Linked DNA regions of Homo sapiens: all the other regions are linked to region 3. The links come from fine-mapping of genetic effects on gene expression. A gene starts in region 3. Each other region holds a variant in brackets. All regions are shown on one strand. Distances are between the middles of the regions.

Region 1 (8,352 bases), 780 kb before region 3:
GATTTTGGAACAACCATGCCAGTCCTGACCGCCTGTGCAACTATTCCAGGGAGTGGGGTGGCTCTAACGTGCGGTCTGGAGTCGGCCCACCTGGGTCACATCTCAGCTCCACTAGCTTACTAGCTGTGTGACTTTGAGCATCTTACCCAATCTCTCTGGGCCTCCATTTCCTTAGCTGCTAAGAACATCCAATAATAGCATTTACGTCTTATGTTTATATGAATGCAGGCAAACACCACCCCTCATACATAACATGGGTTTCATACATGTTAGTGAGCTATGGTTGTGCTCTTATTACCATGACTACTACTCACACACGCTAAGCCCCGATCCTGGGTGAAGCAGGACTGTGTGGTATTTAGTCCCTGCAAGCATCTGAGCAGGCAGACATCACACACCCATTTCAAGGCTTGGACTCACCATGTGACTTCCCTGGGCTCACTCAGCCCATGGCTCTCAGCCAGGCAGCCTCCAAGTCCACCAAACCACCTGCTCCCTGGTTTGGGAATCATGTTTTATTGACACTGAATGGGGGTTGATGTTGTTTTGCATTTTCTTACAAAACATGCTGTACCATCCTCTACAGATTCCCAAGCAACCAAGGAAAACAAACAGCAGCTGACCCTCCCTGGAGCCCTCAGCAGGGACAGGGCCACTTCATATTGACACTGCACAGAAGGGGCCTGAGCCTCTCCCCTGCACAGGATGGGACTCGGGACCCACTCCCTGTACCCTGCATGCCACACACAGATGGGCTTTCCCTCCCTGTACACGGGGACTTCCACCCAAGACGATGAAGCGTCATATTTATATCCTCTGGGGCTGAGATTTGCCAGTTTAAACTTGTCCCAATTTGGAAGCTGTGTGTTCTGTTGCTTAGCTACCTCCATCTAAAAGCAGAACGTACAAGATCCATACATGATAGCCACCATTTTGCCTGATCCGTGCTGGCCTTGCCTGCCCCGGCCTTTGCAGGACTACCAGGCCCCTCCCTTTAGGGCTGAGGTTGATTTCTGCCCACAATACCACACAGAGCCTGCTCACAGCACTGCCTCGTGAGCTCCTTCGCATTTTTGCAACAAATCCTTGAAAGTGCCCTCATAAATCTTGGTGGTCTTCTTGACCTTGGAGGCTCTGCAGTGTTCACAGGCAGACCCCTCACCACAGTGGTGAAGCAGGAGGTGGTGCCACGCCAAGAGCTCAGGAAGGTGCATCTGTGCAGAACAGACCTGATCTCCACTTGCCCTGAGATTTCTAAACAAAGAGAGACCGGAAGCCCCAGCAACGGTCCCCCTGGAGGGCTGGGAAAGTCAGTCGGATAAATCTGCAGCATCAAAAAAAGGAAGAAAATCATAAATTGCTAAATGCCAACAGCTTCTGTTCTTGGGATCTCGGAATCCAAAGAAGGCTATAGATGGCAGAGCCCTGCATGCCTCAGCTGACGTGTGGCCAGTACCGGTACAGCACCGGCCCAACCAGGTGCCTCAGTTGATGGGTGGCCAGTACCGGGACAGCACCGGCCCAGCCAGGTGCCTCAGCTGACGGGTGGCCAGTACCGGGACAGCACCGGCCCAATCAGGTGCCTCAGTTGACGGGTGGCCAGTACTGGGACAGCACTGGCCCAACCAGGTGCCTCAGTTGACGGGTGGCCAGTACTGGGACAGCACCGGCCCAACCAGGCCACACACGGGGGTGGCAACCTGAGCTGGACCTGTGGGATCTGCAGGGTCCCGGCTCAGACTCACCTTCCCACCATTTTGTTTTCTTTTTTTTTTTTTTTTTAACGACAGGGTCTCAATCTGTTGCCCGGGCTGGAGTGCAATGGCACCATCATAGTTCACTGCAGCCTCTAACTCCTAGGCTCAAGCCATCCTCTCTCCCTCCTGAGCCTCCCAAGTAGCTGAGATCACAGGTGTGCACCACCATGCCTAGCTGTTTTTAAATTTCTATTTTTTGTAGAGATGGAGTCTGGCTGTGTTGCCCAGGCTGATCTGGAAAATAGCAGGAAGATAAGAGGGAGGTGCCTCAGTCCCGTGGGCAGTTGGTGACTCAGGCACCTTCCTCTTATCTGCCTGTGGGCACCCAGGTCTGGTGACCAGCCTGGGCAACACAGCAAGTGATCCTGGACTCAAGCGATTCTCCTGCCTCGGCTTCCCAAAGTTCTGGGATTGCGGGAATGAGCCACTGCGCCCAGCCCCCACCATTCTCAAGAGTCCTCTTCACTCCAGGCACGATCAGACTCAGCAGAGGCTCCGGAACCTGCTTTAGATGTGGGCTTCATTCCCTTCATAGGCCAAGCCCCCAGACGTCAAGGGGATTGAGAGCCCAAGTTCCCCGAGTGTCTCCTAGGGAGCAAAGATGGGGCAAATTCGTGATTATGGAAATGATGAAAATGATGATGAGGATAAAAATGTTGACAAAGTTGTTGCTAAAGATGATGGAAAGATAATGAGGAAGAAAAAGATGAAAATGACAAAGATGATGATAAACAAGCAGTGAAGGTGATGATAGTGATGAAGATAAAATGATGACAATGAAAAGATGCCGAAGCAGAAGAAAAGGATCTGAAGAAGATCAAGTTGGTGAAGCAAAGGGAATGGTGACACCAATAACTGGTCATGTTTAGGAGATGCCTTCCCATGCAGTTTCCCCTTCGTCCCTGCAGCAGTAGCTGCAAAATCACCGAGTACCCACAGGACTCAGTACCATTCTAGGGACTGGAGATACAGCTGAGAGGGAGAGGCTTCTTTTTGGAGTGAGGAAAATATCTTAAAATCGATTGTGCTGATGGAAATACAACTCTATGAGTATGTTGGAAGCCCTGAATTGGACACTTAAAGTGCGTGAAGCATGTGGTGTGTGAATTATGTCTCAACAAAGCTGTTAAAACTGAAAGAGACAAATTCCCTATCCTCATGGAACTCAGATTTCTTCCTTTTCTTCCTGGAGAGCTTCCTCTCTGCCAGGCATGATTCCAGGCATTCTACGTGTGACGGCTCATTGCATCCTTCCCGTGGCCCCAAAAGACAGGCTCTGTTGTAGTCACATCCCTTTTACAGAGGAGGAAAGTAAGGCGCATGTCAGGAGGTGACTTCCCCATGCCCACATGCTGGAAAACTGCAGAGCTGGCTGGGAACCGAGGCATTCTGTCCATCCTGACTTCTCAGCGGTGCACTGTGCGGCTTCCTTAGAGCAAGGGTGGAGCTGAGAGGGCCGCACACAAGGGCCCCCTCACATATGCGAGGAAGGAGACAGGTTCGCTGAGGCTCCCTAGGATACTGACAGTGGTAGCCCTGGAGGCTTCCGCTGCTGACAGTCACTTTACAGGATGACCCATTTATTTTCCCTGCTAACTCAAGAGTTGAAAATCCCCTTAACCTCAGTGTAAAGAAACATGTACTTCTCCCAATACAAGTGCATAAGTGACTTCACATCAGAGGTGGCCAGTGGGTGGTCCCGGGCCAAATCTGGTCCACAAATATGTTTTCTGGGTGCACACATTGCTTTTAAAAATAGGAAGAGGCTCTCAACATTTACATGAAGGCTATTTCACCAAAAAAATCAAATCTTCGGTTTCTCTTGGAAATTCTGGCCACAATGGCCTGACATGTGGCCAGGGGTGATGGCCCACAGGATCTGAGTGACAGCTGCCCTCTTGAGCAAGAGTGCACACTCCCCAGGATGCCACAGCCCTGCCTGGCCCAGGTCACTTATGGAGCATTTGGGTCTGTGACTTCTACTCTGTTGAATGAGCTGTGAAGACACCATCCCCCACCCGCCTCCTGTGGCGAGTCATGGGTTAATACTATTGGTCTTACTCATTCCGATAAAGCTTTCTCTCCTATTCCTCCTGACAAGTGCTCAGAAAGCTTTAGGAGTAGCTTGTTTCCACCAGAGACTTCCTTCCAGTGAGGGTGAAGTGGAGGCTTCTGGAGTATCCTCACCTGAGGGCCTAAGGACCTGCAGCTCAGAAATAGCCCAGGCTGGTCAGCAGCCAGACGGCAGTGGTGTCGCCAGAAGCGTATGCAGACCCTGGCCTGGAGACAGCACAGAACCAGTCTCCAAAATTGGCAATGGCCACTGAGGTCCTGAGGGCTCACACTATTCACAAATACACTTCTGAATAGGTTGGTTATAATCAATGTAGTAAATGGAATCATTGCTTAAATGTATCCAAAGAGCCCACTATGCAAAGAGAGATATTCATTCAATAAACACTTATTGTACTGAACTAAACTCTTATTTTATTGAAATAAACTCTTAGGAAATTCCATCTAACCCACTGTGCGTGCTGAGACAGTTGCATGGATGGATGGACAGATATTAGGGTACATCAAGCACAGTGAATAGGATGCCATTTAGTTCAACAATGTCTCCATTCACCTCCTCATCCATCTAACTACACAACATCCCACCACTTATCCACCCATCTACCTATTCATCCAGCTGTCTCTCCATCTACCTATACTCATGCATCTTATAATGCAATTACCCCAGCAGCCATTAACCTGTTCAATCATCCCACCATCCAGATGGCCATCCATCTAACTACCCAACCACCCACCTATCCAATCATACAATCATCCATCTATCCATCTAACCAACCATCCATTCAACAGTAATTAGCTGGGAGCCTACTGTGTACCAGGCACTGAGGATAAAACATTGAAGAAGTTTCTTCCTTCCTTAAAGGAAAGTCTACTGCCTAGGTGGAGGATAATTTGAACCAGAGGATGGCCATGGATGAGTTCCAGGGAGTTGTGAAATAGGCTAAGGAAAAGGACTTTGAGCTGGAAAGACTCAGGTTCATGTCCTCACTCAGCTACTCACTGGCTACTAACAATTCTGAGCCTCCATTTCCTCACATGCAAAGTGGAGGCTGTGAGGCCTATCACACAGGAAGGAAATACTGTCATGGACCCAGAGTCCCCAGCGTGCAGACTGCTCTAGAACAGGGGTCCCAACCCCAGTACCCATCTGGGGCAACCTAGCCTATTAGGAACCTGGCCACACAGCAGGAGGTGAGTAGTGGCGAGCAAGCATTACTGCCTTAGCTCCACCTCCTGTCAGATCAGCAGCAGCATTCGATTCTCAGCAGATTGTGAACTACGCATATGAGGGATCTGGGTTGCACACTTCTTATGAGAATCTAATGCCTGATGATCCATCCCTGTTTCCCATCACCTCCAGATGGGACCATCTAGTTGCAGGAAAACAAGCTCAGGGCTCCCACTGATTCTATATTA[C/T]AGTGAGTTGTATAATAACTTCATTATATATTACAATGTAATAATAATAGAGATAAACTGTACAATAAAGGTAATGTGCTTGAATCATCCCAAAACCATCCTCCTCCCTGGTCCATGGAAAAACTGTCTTCCATGAAACTGGTTCCTGGTACAAAAATGGATGGGGACTGCTGCTCTAGACAATGGTGGCTATGCAAGGAGAAATTCCCACAACCATAGGAGATGTTTGCACACCTGACATGCTTAAAACTCTCATCCAGTTCGCAGACCCATGATCCATAAAGATAAATGATCACAAGCCTCATCGCCTGTTTTGCAACCTTGGGGTTCACTATAAAACAGGAAACCCAAGCCAGGCGTGGTGGCTTACGCCTGCAATCCCAGCACTTTGGGAGGCCAAGGCAGGCGGATCATGAGGTCAAGAGATCAAGACCATCCTGGCCAACATGGTGAAACACTGTTTCTACTAAAAATACAAAAGTTAGCTGGGCATGGTGGTGCACACCTGTAATCCCAGCTAATTGGGAGGCTGAGGCAGGAGAATCGCTTGAACCCAGAAGGCAGAGGTTACAGTGAGCCGAGATCACGCCACTGCACTCCAGCCTGGAGACAGAGTGAGAGTCCATCTCAAAAAAAAAAACAAAAAAAAAAAAACCAGAACCCCAAGTACAGCTGAGTCTTTCCTGCCACAACTGCATTTCTTTTGGCTGAAGATGCCCAGCTGTTGGCATTTTGATCAAGAACGATCCTGGGTATGATGAGTTCCTTGTTCGTCTCTGCATTTACCTTCTTTCTGGTGATCCCTTTGGAAATTGTCCCACTGGCAATTTCAGAGACTGAGCAGACAAATGTGCTTTTGAATATCAGGAAGCCAAATTCCCCCCGATGAGGTCCCTCCTCATGTGTACACCACACTGGGAGAACAGTCTGGGCTTTGCTCCTTGAAGACTGTTCATTAACAAGAACCCTCTTCGAGTCGAGGGTTCCCTGAACTTCCCAGTCCAGCCTGGGTCCACAGGGACAGTCCCAAGGTCTGGCTTGTGAGATGTCTCACCTCTGAAGTCGGGGAACTCAGCCCCCAACTCCCTTCTCAGCAATATGAGGGAATCTCACCCTCCCCCCACCTCCTGTTTGATCCAAACAGAAGCCCTTTACCCTTGATGTACCCAACCTAAAACCCCAAATTATTCAGCAAGGCCCAACCGCGGAGGCCCCACAGGCTTCAGAACAAGAAAAAATGGGTTTCCAGACCCCAGTGTCTTCAGATTGTGCTTTTAAAAAAAGCTTAACACTGCTCCATTCCCGAGAGACAGATAGGGCTTATTTCACTGGAACACACAGAAGCCTGTTGTGGTTCCTGGCGGTCAGTGAAAAACAACCACTCCCTTCTGTCCAAGTGTGTGAAACTGGAGGGAAGATAGTGTAGAAGAAAATGGACCAAGGATAACAGGAAGTACAGGACCGTATAAAACACCACGACGGGCTCTGAATACCCTCGACCTCAGCTGAGATCAGCAAGTCCAGCATGGACCGGGCAGTCTCCCGTTCCAGTCCCTGTGCTCCTTGGGCAGTCTCACCTGCACAAGTGGATGGAAGCACTGCCAAAAACCCCAGGCACCTGACGGCATAGGGACCCTTTGGACATATAACCTTTCCCCTGTGTCTGCCTGCCTTCTTCCTGGATTCCCTCTCCACCATTGCAGATCCACCCACCCCTAGGCTGGCAGGCCCTCCTCCCTCAGCCACAGGCCTGCCGTTCATCCTCACCAGCTCTGCCGTCCTCTCTGCAGCCCCGCGTCCCCAGGATGGTGCTGGCTCCTGGGCCTGTAGCATGTGAGAAACCCTTGTCTCCCCACCCAGCTCTAGCCTTGCTCTCCCAAACCAGCCCTGCACTGCAGCAGAGGGGCGTTTCCCAGACATGCCCTCGCTCCTGACCCCCAGGGAGCCCTGGCTGCTTCTCGGGAGAGCCAGGCCTCCTCATCTGCCATTTCCCACCAGCTTAGCCAGCGCCTCCTTGGTGGGCAAGGCCCTCACAGAAGAGCAGAGCAGGGCCCCGCCACGCCAGTGGGCACACCCTGAAGAGGCGAACAGAACAGATGAGTAAACGGCACTTTCAGCAGCTGTGGAAGTGGCTAAAAACACAGCAGGGGACGATGTGACACAGGGTAATGGCGAGGCTGTGCCACTGGGAGATGGTCAGGAAGGTGACATCTGAGCTGAGCCCAGAATGACAAGAGGAGGTCTGTGTGGATTGGGAACCCATAGCGGGCAGCACAGGAGCCTCCACCACCTGGACCCATGGCCCCTCCAGTCTTCTCCCTCTGCCCTGCCACCCTCACCCAGCCCTGAACCTTCTCAGCCCCCAGGGTAGTCCTGGGAAGGCGGTGCTGCTTCCCACCTTCGAGCTCTCACTGGCTGGTCTGCCTGGGACACCCTCACCCTCCCTCCTGAAGCTGGTCCACACATCTATCTCTGTACATCTTTCACCAGACACAATAATTTATCACCTGTGAGTGCATCTTTTCATCTCTGCACCCCAGCGCCTAGCACGTGCACGCTACATGAATTCGAAATCTCTGTAATTGGGGGGTAAGCACCCCAAGAGATGGGCAATGACATTGGATGTGACAGGATCAACTGGGCCCGTTCTGCAGGTGCAGCCTCCCCCTGTAGGTAATTTCAAATGCTACCTTCCATCCCAGCAGCCATGGATTAACCCTGAGGCAGAAGGCAAACTTTGCAGCCTTTTCAGGGCGGCAATGATAACTGTGACAAGAGAAACCGTCAGCGCTTGCGGCAGCTCAGCCCTGCTCCGGGAGTGACCCATGTCAGGTGTGTTCGCTCCTCAGTGAGGGTCTTGGGGAAGGTAGTAAGATCCATGAAGGAGCCTGTGTGCAGCACCCACACCATACCGAGCACAGAACTTCAGGGTTGCAGACATCAGCGGGCAAAGGACTCAGCCCAGTGAACGTGGACCATAACCACCTCATTAACACAAACATTCACCGGAAACTGGCCTTTAGCTATAGTGTATCATCAGCTTCCCGGCCCTGTCCACAAGGTGTGAGCCGGATGCTTGGCCTCAGGCAGCAAGGCTCAGTGGCTG
Region 2 (8,352 bases), 340 kb before region 3:
AGATGCAGAGTAAAAGGGTAATGGCTCTGTAAATTGGGGTTCACCCATACAAAGCTACAGGACATCACTGAGAATGAGTCAAGTCCATCTGCACTCATGCTGAACTGTTTGTCAAACACCCTGTTAATTGAGAAAAGCAAGGTACAGAAAAAAAAATGCACATTATATGTACTTATTTGCATAAAGAGTAAGAGGGTCATTATGCAAAATTATGCATAGAATATGTGTATGAATGGAATATCCCTAGAATGATGTTCAAAAGATTATTATCTATTGTCTCTGAGAAGGGGGACGGGAGAACCAGGAAAGGATAGAAATGGATTTTGGTGTCTCTCTTTTGCTATTTTTTGAAGCTGTTAGCATATGCTTGCACATCTCACGTAACACATTTATTCACACATTGACATGGCATAATATAGCATGCCAAGTTGATCATGGCCTTCAAAATCAGACAGGCCTGGCTTGAGGGCCAACTCTACCACTTCATGCCTACTGGTGACCAAGTCTCGGTTTCTTCATCTGTCAAATAGGGAGAATCCTGGTCTCACGAAGCTGCCGAGAGTTCAGTGTGCAGGAGGCTTGGGTCTTGGACAGCACACAGGGAATGGTGGTTGCTTTGCCAGCTGCCCTTGTGGAAGCAGCCGGGGGTGATTTTCTTTGCCTACATGTGAGTACACTCAGACAGCTGAGGTGTCTGACATGGTTTTACTTTTAAAGGTCAGAAGCAGATCTGAGGATTGCAAGGCCTCATCTGTTCCAGGAAGCACATGGTCTCAGCTGCTCCACAGACGCTTCCTGCTCCTCTTTGCTGGACTTAGAGCTCTCCTGGTGACTTCTCGACCACACTCCAGGATTGTTTGTTATGTCTTCACTGTTCTGCCCGTTTCATCTCGCGTCCAGGCCGTCCATCACTGAGGACATTCACAGAATGCTCCCCTGATCTCCTTTGCAGACAATGTTCAATGTGATCTTAGGCAAGTTTCTCAGCTACTAGCTCCACTTCTCCACTGTAGTTTGGAGATCTGATTTCAAACTTGGTGGCTGTGATACTTAAATGATGGAGTCAGTCTAGCATTGTGCAAGCAATCGAGAAATGGTCATCATCATCGCCATCACTATTGTCACCCTCCTCATCATTCTAAAATGTATTATGAGTGAGTTGGCTTGAAATGTCCCTCATGGGAGCCTGAGAGAGTAAGAAACAGGCAGGGGGCAAAAGGAACCCACGACATGATTTGCAGAGCTCTGGCAGCGTGCCAGGGAGCTGCTGTGAACGAGGCCAAGACCAGCAAGCTGACCTTTCCCTGCGCTTTGGGATTTTTAAGGAGTGAGATATTGAGGTCGAGGGGTGGCCCCCCTGTGGCTCAGGGCTGTCTATCAGGATTGACCTTGCACTGGGCAGTGGGGAAATAAATCGATCTTGCATCAATCACTATAACCTTTCCCCATGCCCGGCTGAGGCTCTTCTTGCCAGGTGGTGGCCATCTTAGCCAGCAGCAAGTGGCCTGGCCCAGCCGACTTGCCTGAGCAGATCCCTGCAACACACACCTGAATGGAGACTCCAGGCCCTTGGGAGTCAGCTGTGGGGCTTGGCTGTGGGCCCTGTGAGGCAAGGCCTTTGCAATCCTGACACGTGGTTCAATGGAGACAAAGGAGTCAACCTGGAGAACAGAGGACCTGCTACCTCCCCTTGTCCTTGCTTGATCCCTAACCGGACTGCTTAATCCAGAAACTGAGGGCTTTGAGGGGCTAGGACTTCCCACGAGGGCTATTCTGAGTGGCACATGGCCCTGCCCTCCCTGGCGGCACTTCTCTTTCTAAGGTGACCTCTGCTGTGTGTACTGAGACCCCTGCTAGCAGCTCCCCACTCATCCCAACTCATGGAGCCACCAGCTGTTTTTTGACTTTGTCCATAGAGTATCCCAGGTGAAAGCAACCAAGCTTAATCATAATACAATACTATCCTTTGTTTCATAAATTAAACCACAATGCCACACCATTACATTCACATAAGAATGACAAGAATTAAAAAGACCATTGAAACCAAGCCTTGGCAAGGATCTGGAGCAACAGGAACTCTCAGAAGCTGCTGAGAGTCATGGGAAATGGCACAACCACGTTGGAGCTTTCTGTTTTTAATAAAATCTATACAGTAATCATTGTGCAGCCCAGCAATTCCACTCCTAGGAGTTTATCCAAGAGAAATCAGAACATATGCACAAATTCCTGATGGTTTAATTCATAGCAGCCTCAAACTGCGAACAACCCACATATTCCTCAATAGCAGGATGGTAAACAGATTCAGGGATGTTCATACAATAAAATGCTAGCGAGAAAAAAAATAACAGGCCAAGCACAATGGGTCACACCTGTAATCCCATCACTTTGGGAGGCTGAGGTAGAAAGATTGCTTGAGCCCAGGAGTTTGAGACCAGCCTGGGCAACATAGTGAGACCCCATCTCTAAAAAAAATTTTTTTTAATTAGCTGGGCATGGTGCTGCACAGCTGTTGTGGTCCCAGCTATTCAGGAGGATGAGGCAGGAGGATCACTTGAATCCAGGAGGTTGAGGCTGCAGTGAGCCATGATTGTGCTACTGCACTCCAGCCTGGGCAGCAGACTGAGATTCTGCAGAAAGAAAAGAAAGAGAGAAAGGAAAGAAAGAAAGAACAAAAGAAAGAAGGGAAGAAAGAGAGAGAAGGAAAGAAGGAAAGAAGGATGGAAGGGAAAAGAAGGGAAGGGAAGAATGGAAGAAGAGAAGGGAAGGGAAGGGGAGAGAAAAAGGGCAGGTGGGTGGGAGAAAGGAAGACATAACCACTTGCTAATACAACACAGATGATTCTTAGAGCCTTAGGTGGAGTGACAGACCCAGGCATGAACGAGTACATCTGCATCATCCCACCCATATGAAGTTCTAGAACAGGCAAAATTAACCTGTAGTAAAGAAATCAGAATATTGTTTGCCTCTGAGTAGCCAGGGTTGAGGTGGTGTGATATCACCTGGAGGAGGAGGGGACAAGGGAACTTTCTGGAGTGATAAAACACCACACATCTTGATTGGGATGGTGATTACATGAGTATATACATAGAATTTATAAAACCGTAAACTTATAATTTGAGTATTCTATTGAATGTAAATATACCTCAAACAAACAAAAAAGTGGGGAAAGAACTTCACATTTCCCAAGGCCAGATTTTTACCCAGCTTCTTTATCAATGTCTCTGAAATTTCAATTGTATTCCCTCTGCATGCAAAGACCCCACTGGCAGGGTCCTTCTATCTTTCAAGTGTATGGACTTAAAAAGTGCATCCTTTAAACCATTTGCAGGAAAAAGGAAGCTGAGAATAGTTTAGAGCTATTCTGAAGATGTGGTTGACATGCATGGAATTGTTCTGTATACATTCACACTTCTGGATGTTTTATTGCCTAATAAGGAGAAAGTTATACATGCCATTTCTCAGCCTTGGAATTCCTGTTGGAGCAATATATCGAGGCAGAGGAGAGTCTGTGTTATCAGTGATGGAATTTTGTTTATGGGGGCAAAAGGTACCCTGGAGCCTGCCTGGTAGTCTGGTGTAAGGAACAGCTCTCAGGTGATTGATGAAATGGCTTAATTGCTCAAGAAGCTGGATGTGCTGGCTGTGCCCTAGCAGGGGCTGAGCCCTCCAGAGCCAGAACACAAACACCTCTGTGGAGTTTGTTGGAGTTGGTCTTGACCTTGCTGCCCATTCCCATCACTGAAAGTTTGCTTGTTCTGCCCCCTACCCCACCACAACTCCTACCCCACAACACTTTTTTTTTCTTCCTGAAAATGGGGTCTTGCCAGCTTGGGGGTTGCCCAAGCTGGTCTTGAACTCCTGGACTCAAGTGATCCTCCCACCTCTGGTTCCCTAAGTACTGGGATTACAGGAGTGAGCCCCACTCCTGCCCCCAACCCCCAAGGAGGAGGAGGAGGCATCTCCTCCTCTTTCCTGAAAAATTCACAAAGAAGTCTCACCTCTTTTGCCTGTTAGAACCTCGCTGTAGCCCTGAGAGATGGGGTCACTAGCTCCATCATGCAGGGAGAATGGTGAGGCTCCAGAGTGGCTGAGTAGAACCCGTGAAGCTCAAACAGTGAAGAGTGGTTGAGCCAGGCAACCACTCAGCATGTCGCCTCCATCGTCATTGCCCGC[C/T]GGCCCACTTCCCTCCAACTATGCAAATCCTCCATCTGCTTTTCTCCAGAAATCTCTACTCATGTCTCTGTCCAAGCTCTGTCTGCCTCCTTCCATAGTACAATTCCTTGAACTGTTTACCATTTGATGTGAGCTCATCTCATAACACCTGGTTGATTCTCAACGTTTTTGAAATCTGCTCCTGAATTTGAGTTCCCAGAGCTGAACTGATTTGGGGAGAAGGATGGAATGGGGCCACAGAATGCTTAATAATATGGATTGATTGACTGATTGATTCATACCCTATTGGCAACCTGTTTTATGAGTCTCCTGGGGCATACACTCTTCCTGATTAGCATTTTTACTCCATCAACTAAGGATGCTGTGTATGATCTCACCATGTCAGCTCAAGAGCAAGCTCTAACGAATGTTTACTGTCTGCTTTGGAAGTGTGCATGCTGATCCTGGATCCCAGTTTTGAGAGGCCAAGTTGTGAAATGTCAAATGCCACATGCAATGCAAACACACTGGGGAGAGCCTGTGTAAATCAATTACAATAAGGTCACTAGCATTTAGGTGAAGGCAGTGCTACTGAAGGTGATGAGATCTGGAGGGTTTTGCTCAACAACAAGGTCATTTTGCCTTCATCAATCTATCGACCATTTTTCTCCCTGGAACTAAACAATAAAGTATGTTGCCCAAGTAAAAATGCTGTGGTAAAATATCCTTATCACTCAAGTAAGGCTCCTAAAGTGTCAAGTAGGAGGATGGGGGGAGGGTAGAGACAGATGGCTCTGGAATCATTCTGTTTGTCCTGACGCCATGAAGTTTCTAGCAGGTGCTTGGGTTTCTGAAGTTCTGGGTCTCCTTCTTTGCCTCTAATTCAACACCCTCCTCCTACTTTGTCAGTACCATAGGTTGTTATTATTTTCCTTTCTTGATATTTTTAAAAATCCATGTGCTTGGGAAAGCCGACAGAGCAGAAGGGTGCCACCCTGTGAATGGGAATAACCCTGCCATGTAATAGAGGCCAAGTGTGGCTCTACCTCAGACCTTGGTGGCGTCTTCAGCTCTAGCCCCAACTTCAATCTTAAACCAAAGCCTGAATGAGCCACAGCCCAGCCCAGGCCGGCCCTGGCTGGCCCAGCAAAGTGGTCTCATCCCTCGCCATCACCCCAGATGGAGCTGCCGAATTCACAGAGAAGGCATGTGCTCTTCAAGCAGCCAACACTATTAACTCATGGAACAAGTAAATTAGATTCGTGATGCTAAAAATTAAAAATGATGCTAACTCTTCTTTCAAAATGCTGACCCTAAATACAAACTTAAATTAAAATGCATGGAAGAAGAGGATGAGAGAAGGCTGTAAGGAAAGTGGGACCCAGTGAAATTGGGGGCACGAGGCAGTAGCTCCCCACAACCCCATGCCCAAAGAAAACCCCCACTTTAGAAAGTCCTTAACGTGCAAATTTCTGACACCAAATGGAAGCACCAACATCAACAATAAAAGGTGAACTGTGACTGTAAATAATGTAAGCTTCTTAGGCCCCTCCAGGGCAGAGCAGGGCTCCTCTCTGGGTTGAAGCTGAAGGCACCTGCTCAGTGGCAGAGCCTCTAATTGGGAATGTAATGGGTCTCCAGTCCTGGGCTAACCAGCAGTCCCTGGGGCAGTGACGCAGGCTGCTCCCCTCCTGAATTCGCCTGAGCGCCAGCACAGAGTGGCCCTTCCTCACCATCTAGTTTCATTGTCTAAAAATGTGACTGAAATGACAGCAGGATACTCCCCCCTGGGGTCCAAAGGGGTGACTGTGGTGCTGAAAGGCTCTGTGGACACTGGGCCTTTGGAAATGGCCAAAGCAGCAGCCTCCTTTTCCATGAGAAAGAGCCCCAAAGATTAAGCAGATATGGCTTGTTTTGGCCAAGCAAACTTGGGAGTTGAAGGTATCGGGATAAAGGATGTCAAGTTTCACAGTTCTGAAAACAAGTTCATCTCCAGCCAGCTGAGGAAGTCCAGGCCAAGGTCACAATCTGGTTGTTCAGCTGTCTGCACACACAGGACGGAGGCACCCACGCCCCTGGCTGTGGGCCAGGAGAGGCTACTTTATCTGTGGTTTGTCTTCTCAACATGGGGATATCGGAAGCACGCATGGAAGAGGTCAGGGAGAGAGGAAGGAAAGAGACCTGCATGTGGGGAGCTAGGCTCTCTCCCCCTCTTCCCATCTCTTTCTCATTCTTCCAAGAAACGAGCCAATGGGAAGATTCTGTTGGTCAATACTGGAAAATCTAGCAGTGACTGAAGAGGCCCAATACAATACACGAAGGGCTACGTGGACACAGCGCCTGGGCCATCCGGTTCTGGGAGTCGCAGACACAGGACTGGTGGTGCAGGGTCTCCTCCAGGACAAGGGACAGCATGTGTCACCGCTTCCTCCTGGTGTGAATGTGGGAGCAAGAGAGGTTATGATCTTTAAACACAGGGACTAATTGACTCTTGGACATGTATTCAGTGTGGCCCGGCCTTCCTTTCTCCTTCTTGAGTGTCGAAGACTCATCCTGAATTGGGAGTCGGATTGTCTATCCCCAGACATGATCTGAGCATCAGTGTTCCCAGCCACCTTTCTTATAGGCTGTGCTGTAGCCACAGGGGCCTCCCCTGGCCTCCTCAAACATCCCAGAGCATGCTTGCCTCAAGGCCCTTGCATTTGTTCCTCCTCCAGCAACATGCTTCTGCACGAACTGTATGTTGCTCTAGTCCCAACACAACTGTCACTCCCTTGGGGAGGCTTCGTTAACCTCCCATCTGAAGCACCCCCCATCCAGGCAAGTACCCCTCAGCCGCATCATCTTGTTTATTCTCTTGTTCTATTCTCTTCATAGCACTAGCTGCTATCTGAAATTATCATGTTTATTTATTGGCTGACTTTATTCTCTGTCCCCACATGCTCCCTTGAATGGGGAGCCATATGAAGGCAGAAATCGTATCATTTTGCTTACCATCGTACCCTCAGTGTCTGAAAAATAATTGTTGTATTACTGAATGAATGAAGGGTTGTTTTGAGGGTGAAATTTATAATAGACACCAATGGGTTTTGTGTACTTGTCAATAAATGTCACATTTATTATTGTTGTCAGTTATTATATTACTTATTATAGATTAGGCATGATTCTTTAAATAAGGCATTACCGTTCCTGACTCCTTGTCAGGGGTGGCCAGGCTCTCTCCTCGCCTAAGTCACTCTCCCTCCAGGGAAGCTTCAGGACTCTCCGGTCTACTTTGCCCTGCCTCCTTGGAAAGCCTGTGTCATGCACTGTTTATACTCCCCAGCTAAATGGCCAGTCCCTTGCCTTGTATCTCTAAGTACATGAAAGGCTCTCAGTAGCAAGTTGATGAGAAGTAGGGTGACTATTAGATTTGTGCAAAATTTTCATTAATTTGAATGCGGTTTTGATGGCATAATAGCCATGGTCTATCCATATCCCAGCTTGGCCCCACTACCCCTTCCCAGCAAGGCTCCTGAAGGGGACCTACACATACAAAGAATACCATTAAAATGAGGATGAGGCAAACTTTATTATTACCTGGGCAAGCGTCTAATACCTCCCAATGCAGAGCTCTGGAAGAGTTTCAAGGGACACTATAGCTTAGGCTCAAGAAGTCTTATTTCACCTGGGAACCCAGTTTCAAATTTTACTGCTGGGCATTGCCAAATTGAAACAGTACATATTATATTAAGCAAGAGGATCAGAGGGAGATGTAGTCATTAATTTGTTGAATGCATTCATCCCCATCAAGAAGGAAGATCAAAAATAGTTTGTCATTCACTTGGCATGGACAACAGGGTACATTTACAGTCTTGCCTGAGCACTATATTAATTCTCCTGTTCTCTGTCCTTCTGAAGGAACCTGGATTATAGGGATATTCCACTGAACATCACATTGGTTCCGTGATATCTGACATATCATGCTAATTGGACTGGATGAGCAAGAAACGGCAAGTTGGAACTCTTGGGAAGGCACATGTGTTCCAAAGGATGGGAGAGCCTGACCTCTACAAAGGTCCAGCCATGTCAGTACAGTGGTCCAGTAGAGTGGTCCAGTCATCTGGGGGCATAACAGCACATCCTCTCCAAATAAAAAACAAATTATTGCATCTCATACTTTTTACCACAAAGATGAAAGGATAACACTGGAAGACCTCT
Region 3 (8,352 bases):
GTTGCTTCCTTACCCTTCCTGCTCTCATGATCTTGCCTATCTCTAAGGGGATAGCACTCAATAAAATGAGTTTGGGATTATGTGTATTATCATTATTATACTTTATTTCCTCAACTTTGCTTTTTAAATAAAAAGTAGGCAGTGAATAGTTTATGCAATAATAGCAGCGGTTTATTTGTTGTTTTGTATGTTTAGTAAGATTTTGGCTTGTGTGTTGATTTTAGCAACATTTTGAATCTTCAGTTCCAAAATGATTTGATCTTTTTTTTTTTTCTTCATTCTGTAGATTTCATTTACAAACATGGTTTCAGTAGATGAGAGACTTATATACAAACCACATCCTCAGGATCCAGAAAAGTGAGTAAAAAATATTTTAACAAATGTATCGTAAAGGGTGTTTAAGGTTTTTTTATCAAGTTTTTTGAAAATGAAAGCTGGGTCATCTGAACCTGTGTGAATATGTTTTGTTCCAGAACTGTTTTGACACAAGAAGCCATAATTACCGTGAAAGGAGTTAGCCTCAGCAGTTACCTTGAAGGACTGATGGCAAGTACGATATCCTCAAATGCTAGTAAAGTAAGTGAGGCTGCTTCTTGGTTATTATTCCCTGGTTCATTTCCTGGGAATGGAATGGGGTGCTGACTGCATGTGTGTCCTTGTAAGCTGACCCTTGCCCATTCTACCATAGGAAACTGCAGCACGTTGGGCAGTTACTTACAAAGGCTCTGGGTTCACATCCAAGCTCTAACTTTTAGCCTTTTAACCTTGGGCAACTAAGTTAACCTTTCTATGCCTCAGTTTCCCGTTTTTAAAGTGGAGATTACCCGTTTTACAGGGTTGGCGTGGAGTGAATGAGATAACATATGGAAAGTGTGTAGCCTGAGGCCCAGCACTGAGGAAGTGCTCGATGATGTGTAGCTGCGTGTCATTTAAGGCACTGTTTCTCAACCTTTTTTCACTGTTGTCTCCCCCACAACTCGTTTTAGACATTTTTTCCCTAATTGCCACCTCCATTAAGTCATATATCATATACATATGTGTGGGCTTTATACATAAAAGAGGGAGATTTTTTCCATCCCCCCAAGAACCAATTTTTGCTTATTGAGAATGCATGATCTGAAACAGTAAGTTTAGAGAAAGATGCCATGCACTGTTACATAACACATGGTGAATGTGGTTATCAAGAGATACTCATGGATGCCTTCTCTGTGCCATGCAGAGTGCTAGGCTAGACAGGGTATACAGCAGGGAGCAAAACAAATGTGGTCCCTGCCCCCGTGGAACTAAGAGGCAGGTGACATTAATCATACAGCATGTAATTAGGAAAGAAAAGGTACAGAAAGGTATGAGAGTGCTTATTGAGTGTTCAGTAACTGATGTTTCTGCTGACTGCCAAATGGGGGCAGGTGGATTGCGAGGGGTATTCCAAGAAGAGTGTTCTAGGTGGAGGAGCTGCGTGTGCAAAGGCCCTGAGACAGGAAGTAGGGAATGCTCTGTTTTTCAAGGAACTATATAGAACACTAGGAGAGAAGGGGTGAGGAGTGAGTTGAGGACCAGATCCTGCAGGACCTTGCACAGGATTTTGGTTTAAAATGTAAAGAAAAGGGATTTGACCTTCTTGCCCCTAAAAAGGGGACCACTATAATCATGAAACAAATAAGACATTCTGTCATTTAATTGTAGATTCATTTGAGAACATCTTTTGCATACAAAGTAAAAGTCAGTTTATGGATCAAGCCAGTTGCTCAAGGCATTTGATGTTTGCTAAATAACATTAGAAAAAGCCAGGACAAAAACGATCTGTCATCCTGAGATTGAGTTAAACTTGTCACGCCCCTTGTTACTTCCTGGTGTGTCATTAGTTCGATATATGCCTTTGCTCTCCCTCAGTAACAATAAATGTATTGGATTTTTTTTAAGGGCCGAGAAGCAATGGAATGGGTAATACATAAATTAAATGCTGAGATTGAAGAACTGACAGCCTCAGCAAGAGGAACCATAAGGACTCCAATGGCAGCAGCAGCGTTTGCAGAGAAGTGATCGTGACAGTTGGTAGACAACATCGGGTACTCCAGGTCTCTCCAAACTGACTATATATTTATTTGTTATTTTAAAAATACAACTATATTTTGGGTAGTTTTTTTTTTTTTTTTTTTGATAAGTTGGTGTAAGGCTATGTGACTTGATCAAAACAGATGCAGGGCCTCTAAATAAAAGGGATCATCTGAAATTAATGTTGTTTGAAATTACTATCTGATTTTGAGGGTTCCAGTATTTCTGTGAAAATTCAACAAGAACTCCTTGGAAACTGGTATTGATATTCAGTCTCCTTAAGGTAGATTTTTCAAGCTTTTCATACATTGGAACTCCACCTGACTTTGGACCAACCCCAGAACAGAGCAGAGCCACCTCCTATAGACGCCCATTGCCCTGCTGCTGTACACTTCAGCAGCTTGCACAAGGGAGCTCACTTAAAAGGAGAAATTGTGTAGTTTTAAAATATATTTTGTGTAAAATACCTTACTATGCTATAAACCACCATTAAAAACCAGTGTTTTGATTTGGTACTTAAATATTTTTGGAGTGAAAATTATCACTAAAGTAACATGACTCCAACAAAAGTATGGTTTCATTATAAAAGAGTACTGTATTGATTTGCCCAAGTTTTGTAACTTAGTAAAGGTATTAACTTCCTTGGATTTGTACTTTGTGATTTAGTATGCTGTATCGTGGGCTGGTTATGTTAACTGAAAAAAATAAAGTCATTACCTGAGTTTTGCAGTGCTCTAACTTAAACAGAAGAACAGCTGTTCACATCTTTTAGCATTTTACATTTGCCTAACTTAAAAATTGCCATGTGTCAAAATCATGGTTTTGTAATTGCTAAGGCATGATATGTCAGGTTATTTGAATATAATTACTTTTTGAAGTAATTGTGACCACAAAACATCTTTTTTACATGAAGGAGCTGTGTATCATTTGAAATTACTCAAATGATGTCTTGCTCTGAGGCATAAATCCCAGGTACTTAGTGTTTTTAATAATATGGTGCCACTGCAGGATTTGGGGGCGGTGGGGAAGAACAAGCATAATGGTAGGGGGAGGCTTGGCCTGAAACTAACCACTGAGTGAATTGCACTGCAGGTTTTACTTAACGGGAATTCCTTATTTGGGATGTCAAGAGGGCAGCTGCAAACTGAAAAACAATCCAGTAAATGTACTTTGTTTTATGTATTGTAGCAGGCAATTAACTACTAAATAATAGCTTTGACATTTGCAATTGTTGCATAGAGACTATTTTTGCTAGAAGATGATTAGCTCTTGCCTTTATTTTACAGTGCTTAGTGTGATAAACTTCTAGTCATGTTTCCTATCCAAGAGACCAGTTAATATATGTACATAAACCACAGAAATAGTATAACACACTATTTTTAAATTATCGTTTTCCTACTTAAATTTTGTTTAGCTTAAGACTTCTTAGGACATTTGTAAAAGCAGGTTAAATTTAATAAGGTTTCTGATTTTTTTTTGTAACCGGAGATAGTTTTTACAAGTGAAATAACATTTCAGCTAAATAAAACATCGCTAAATAATTGATATTTGATGAAAATCTGCTTTGTATAATTTCTGTAAATTATCCTTGTTCTGAAAAAGGTGTAATGCCCTAATATTTTTAAATCCTTATCCTTTGATTTTTTAAAAACTGACCTATTGATAAAACTATAAATTTTCATTTTCCAGTGCAGTTAGTTACCTTTTTAAACATAAATGCACAACAAGCAAATGAATTTAAGAGAACTAAACTGGAATAAGTGTTCATAAATGAAACCCTTGGACTATTTAATAAAGTTGAAATGTGAATTAAGGAAAACTTTTGTTAATAAAAACTTTCTTTTAAGTGATGTTTTTCCTGATTATAATTTCTTTTTAGTAATTAAAGGTGAAGGGCAAAGGCTTTTTTTTCTTTATGAGAGAAACACTTTAATTCCTAGACTGTGAGCCTTCACTGCGTTGGGTTAGTTTCTCTAAATCACAGGCTCTGAGATGAGCATTTTCCCGGCCGCCTGGCAGTTCCCTGTGCCTCCAGTGGGTTTTCCTCACATTTTTCTTCCCATCCATTCCGGGCAACAGTGACAACTGTTGCCTTACCCTCCGTCTTGTCGCACATCGGAAGCAGGTCCTAGAACTACAGAAAACGCTAGGGGGTCCTCCACTGGGTTTCCAGGGTTTAGTGTCACTCCGAGAAAGGGGGTGCCCTAAGAGCCTTTCTAAATCTCAGCTCTCAGGACACGCTTGTCTGTCCACAGATTTAAAAAAGCCGGCGCCGTTTCCCTGAAGCGGGCGCAAAGCCAGGCCCTCGGGGCGGCCGTGCCCGCGCCGCCTCGCGTCCTCGCTTCCCGAAAGCACGCGGCTCAGTGGTCCTTAGCGAGCGGGGACACCCCGGCCTTCTTGCCCCCGTCGTCCCCGCCGGGGTAATACGGAAGGTCGGGGGACACACGCCCCGGGAGCTCTTGGAGCCAATAGGTGGGCGCGGCCGGCCGGCCCGCCCCGGGATTGGCACCCGCAGTCCAGACCGCGCGCGCCCATTGGCTCCCGGCGCCGGGGGGCTTCCGCGGCAGGGCAGCAGGGGCCGTGCTCAGGGGCGGGGCCGGGTAGGAGGCGGTGATTGGCAGGTCCGCACGCCCCGCCTCTTCCGCTTCTGTGGTCTGATCTTCCTGCGGCTGAACCGCCCGGCTGAGCCGACATTGCCGGCGTCTTGGCGATTCGGCCCGACGAGCTCCGCTTTCGCTACAGCATGGTGGCCTACTGGAGACAGGCTGGACTCAGGTAGGCCCAGGCCTCCAGAGGGAAGGGCTTCGCGAGCCGGCCCGCGCGCATCCCGGTGCCCAGAGGTCATGCAGGACACAGAGCAGCGGCCCCACGCGTGACCGGGGTTGGGCCAAGCCTCGGGCGTCGCCGCCAAGATGGCGTCGCTGTGGGCAAAGCGCTCAGGCGGGCGCGGCCTCGACCTCGCGTGGGAGCGCGTCTGTGTCCTGCCTCGCTTCCCGACGGTGCGGCCCAGCACCCACAGAGTGCCCCTGGACACCTTTGTGAATGGCAGGTTTCTCGAGAGAGAGGCCAGCTCTTATTTAGCAAACCTTTTTCTTCTAGAATGGTGCTGGAGCCAGGTGGTGAAAGTAGTACAGTCACATCCACCTCGGGAAACAGGAGATTTCTCTCCACGTGACCGCCGTTAGCAGCTTTGACCTTTAATCCAGCATCGAGGTGGAGCCTTTTACAACTTTACACATTTTTTTTTTAAACTTTTAAGTCCTGTTGATTTCAGGTTTCCTTATGTCTAAAAGGGGTGAAAGCCATAACTGTCGAGAGCCCCTCACAAAGATGAGAGGTGGCTCCTGGAAAGCTCAAATATGGAACCCACTTGAGGACATGGTGTCTCATAGTGGAACCGCAAACCATTGGTCTAGCTGTCACATCCGATTTTTTTTTACCCGTGCACCTGAGTGAGCAGAAGTACCTTGCTCTAGGTGACACACCTTGTTAGTTGACTGGATGGTGTAGCACTTTACATTTTGTGGGTACACTACAGCGGAGCTTCCCGACTTGCTGAGGTCAAGCCAGCGAAGTCTTGTAGAATTGGAAGGATGGAAGGATGATAGTCCCAGTAGTAGATACCGTTTATTAGGCAACCTACCCTGTGATCCATACTTTTTCACACTTGTTTTTCCTCCTCCCAGCTATCAGCAGGACAGGTATTATTGTCCTTTTATTCTGTTGTTTTTTTCAGGTGAGTGAGTAAACGTGCTGAAAAGGTTGAACAGCCTGAAGGTCACCCAGTTAGTAAGAATGGAAGCAGGCATTGGAACTCATACCTCTGAGTCCCCAAAATAAATTCTAAAACATGAGAAAATAGCACCCCTCCCCGCTTCCTGTTTTTCAAAAGTGGGAAAGGTGATCTGACATCTTTTGGAAACTACAGTGTTGATGGGAGTCCATCTACCAAACAGGAAGCAGGTTTTACAGTTTTGCTAGAATTGATGATGTTCTCTAAGCACTTTTCAGTTTGATTTAGAAATCTTCATTAGGAGGTTATTTTCAGTGGCAGACTTGTGAGACAGAATTCAGTATTCTCAGAGAAGAGTTTAAATAATTTAGAACGAATTGTTTTAATTCAAAATAGTTTTCTCTTATGTATACCTCATTTTCCAAGAATAATATAATTAAAGTTTTAAGGAGAGAAATCGAGGAGAGAATTCATGATTCATGTTATAGTCTCTAAACATTTCAGTCTCTTTTTTTCTATGCTGTGGGATTTTTAAAAACATTTATGCATCTTTCATTTTGAATTAATATACACTAAAGAGAAAACACAGTACAAAGAAGAAAAATCAAAGATCATCCATCCAAACACCAGTTAATACTTTGGTACATTTTTTTCTAGTTCTTTTTCTTTGTATAGATACTTTTTGGCATTAGTCATATTTTTAAATCCAATTCTACAATAAGGTACAACCAAACCAAAATAAAAAGTACAGGAAGAAAAGCGAAAACACAGTAACAGCTGTCTGGCTGGAATATTGATAATTAACCATATACCTTCTCTCATTTTCTCCCAGCTACATCCGATACTCCCAGATCTGTGCAAAAGCAGTGAGAGATGCACTGAAGACAGAATTCAAAGCAAATGCTGAGAAGACTTCTGGCAGCAACGTAAAAATTGTGAAAGTAAAGAAGGAATAATCTGTAAGTTATGGATTTATTTAGAAGAACAGTTGCATCTTAAGTTTTTGGAGCACCATAAAGATCAAAATAATTTTAGTTTTGGGTTCTATTCATTTTTTAGTCAGTGTATTTGGAAGTTAGTTATTGGGATGGTATAATTTAAAGCATGCAGGTTATAGAAGTCCCCTGGCCTAATAAAAAGAAAGTCTTCTTGGGCCCTGACAAGCAGAAGTAATTGGCACATTGATTTTCAGTTCATTTAGCAATGCTTAGGTAGAGAGCCATCGTATTTGAATTAAACCTGTTTCATTTGTCTGCACAAATCAAATAATTTGGAGGATGAACTCCCCACTTGTATAATTGCAATTGGAGTTACATAACAGTCCAAGAGCATGAAAAACTACAGTTCTTTACATTTTTATTTCCCCCACAACCACTAATGTTCTCACAAATCACTACTTCCCGAACATAATAACTACAGGCACAGGCAAGGGTCCTGCTGTTGTATCAAGCAATAAAATCTGCAAGACCCCGCAGCGAATACTGTTTTGCTAATTTATTATGCTTTCAGAGGGTTTGGTTCATTTTACTTTTCCAAAGATGTTGGTGATGTAAAGTTAAATTCTCGTGAAATAAAAAGGTCTGTACAGTTGATAAGTGTAGACTTTTGTGTTCCACATTATAAAAGTGGTTTGATCTCTAAAGTACTTTCTTGACATTGTTATTTCAAAAGTAGGCAAGGCAAATTATCAGAGAGATGTTTTTCAGATTTAATTTTTCTTGTTTTGCTTTTAAAAAGCTTCAGACCCATAATAGCACAGAAATGTGATAAATATTAATCCTTTGGCAGCTTATGGTTATGAGCAATTTTACTTATTGGAACTGTCTCCCCTAAGCACTTTTCATTTTCATTTTGAATTAGTAAATATTTTATTACAAGTCTGGAGATGCAGTGTTTTGAATTTAGCCCTTTTTCTAGGGGCTCTCTGTCTAATCTCATAATTCTGAGTAATGAGACCTGGTTTTATGTTGGGTTGTTTTGTTTTAACAGTAAGCTAACAGAAAATCATTTAGCCTCACTCGGCTCAGAGCTGCCAGACTGCATCTAATGCTGAGATTTTGCAAAGTCCTGGGGGTCAGGAAGTAGTGTCCGATCCCCTTAAACAAAGCATTAGCCCCTCTCTGTTATGCCCTTCAGGGTTACAGACCCCACCTCATTAGCACAAGGAGATGTTAGTGTCTTTTAAAGGCAAAGTAGTTTCTTTATTCTGGGAGAGTGTTTACTTTTACTCAGCAGGAAAATGCCTGCTTGACTAAGCCTGTGTACTTGAACCAGCACTTTTTACATCTGAGCCACGGCAATGTGAATGATAGCCACAGTTATACAGTTCACTATAAGGAAGTTATTTCTTATATTCATGTTGAGTTTTTAAGAAAACACAGAGAACTAGCCAGCAACTTGCATTTTCTTTTTCCTCCTAGACCCTGACTAAAGCTTGAAATGCTACATTTCCAAGGTGAAGATGTGTGGGCACATGTTATGGCAGATTGAAAAGGATCTCATTCCATGGGAAAAAAAAAAATCCTGTCTTGTTCATAAATTGACAATGTCAATAAATTGAAATATGG

Alleles and levels. Alleles are on the strand shown, and positions count from the first base shown. SD is a standard deviation of normalised expression in the study named. Not every link is listed here.
For the expression in whole blood of the gene that starts at base 4,712 in region 3, C is the low allele of the variant in region 1 and T is the other (large effect, 0.86 SD a copy in Lepik 2017).

What was found. PIP is the estimated chance that this variant, and not a neighbour inherited with it, causes the effect.
Region 1: its variant is fine-mapped to the expression of ATP5F1E in whole blood (Lepik 2017, PIP 0.95).
Region 2: its variant is fine-mapped to the expression of ATP5F1E in lung (TOPMed, PIP 0.97).

The regions. Positions count from the first base shown.
Region 1 is chr20:59,812,967-59,821,318 of GRCh38, reverse strand. The region is part of intron 8 of PHACTR3 (phosphatase and actin regulator 3); the gene reads right to left. Among named protein-coding and RNA genes, the nearest start is that of SYCP2, 120 kb to the left of the region's middle. The variant C/T (reference allele first, on the strand shown) is at 5,247.
Region 2 is chr20:59,369,540-59,377,891 of GRCh38, reverse strand. No RefSeq gene overlaps it. Among named protein-coding and RNA genes, the nearest start is that of EDN3, 73 kb to the right of the region's middle. RefSeq lists an enhancer at 1,527-2,028. The variant C/T (reference allele first, on the strand shown) is at 4,174.
Region 3 is chr20:59,028,695-59,037,046 of GRCh38, reverse strand. It overlaps ATP5F1E (ATP synthase F1 subunit epsilon), which reads left to right and starts at 4,712. Exons shown (of 3, transcript NM_006886.4): 1 at 4,712-4,827; 2 at 6,618-6,744; 3 at 8,206-8,352. The coding sequence starts at 4,796. The coding sequence ends at 6,741. It overlaps PRELID3B (PRELI domain containing 3B), which reads left to right. Exons shown (of 6, transcript NM_016045.3): 4 at 287-357; 5 at 474-576; 6 at 1,921-3,902. The coding sequence ends at 2,040. SLMO2-ATP5E (SLMO2-ATP5E readthrough) reads left to right here. Exons shown (of 6, transcript NR_037930.1): 2 at 287-357; 3 at 474-576; 4 at 1,921-2,075; 5 at 6,618-6,744; 6 at 8,206-8,352. RefSeq lists a silencer at 4,469-4,758 and enhancers at 4,779-4,918, 7,703-8,233.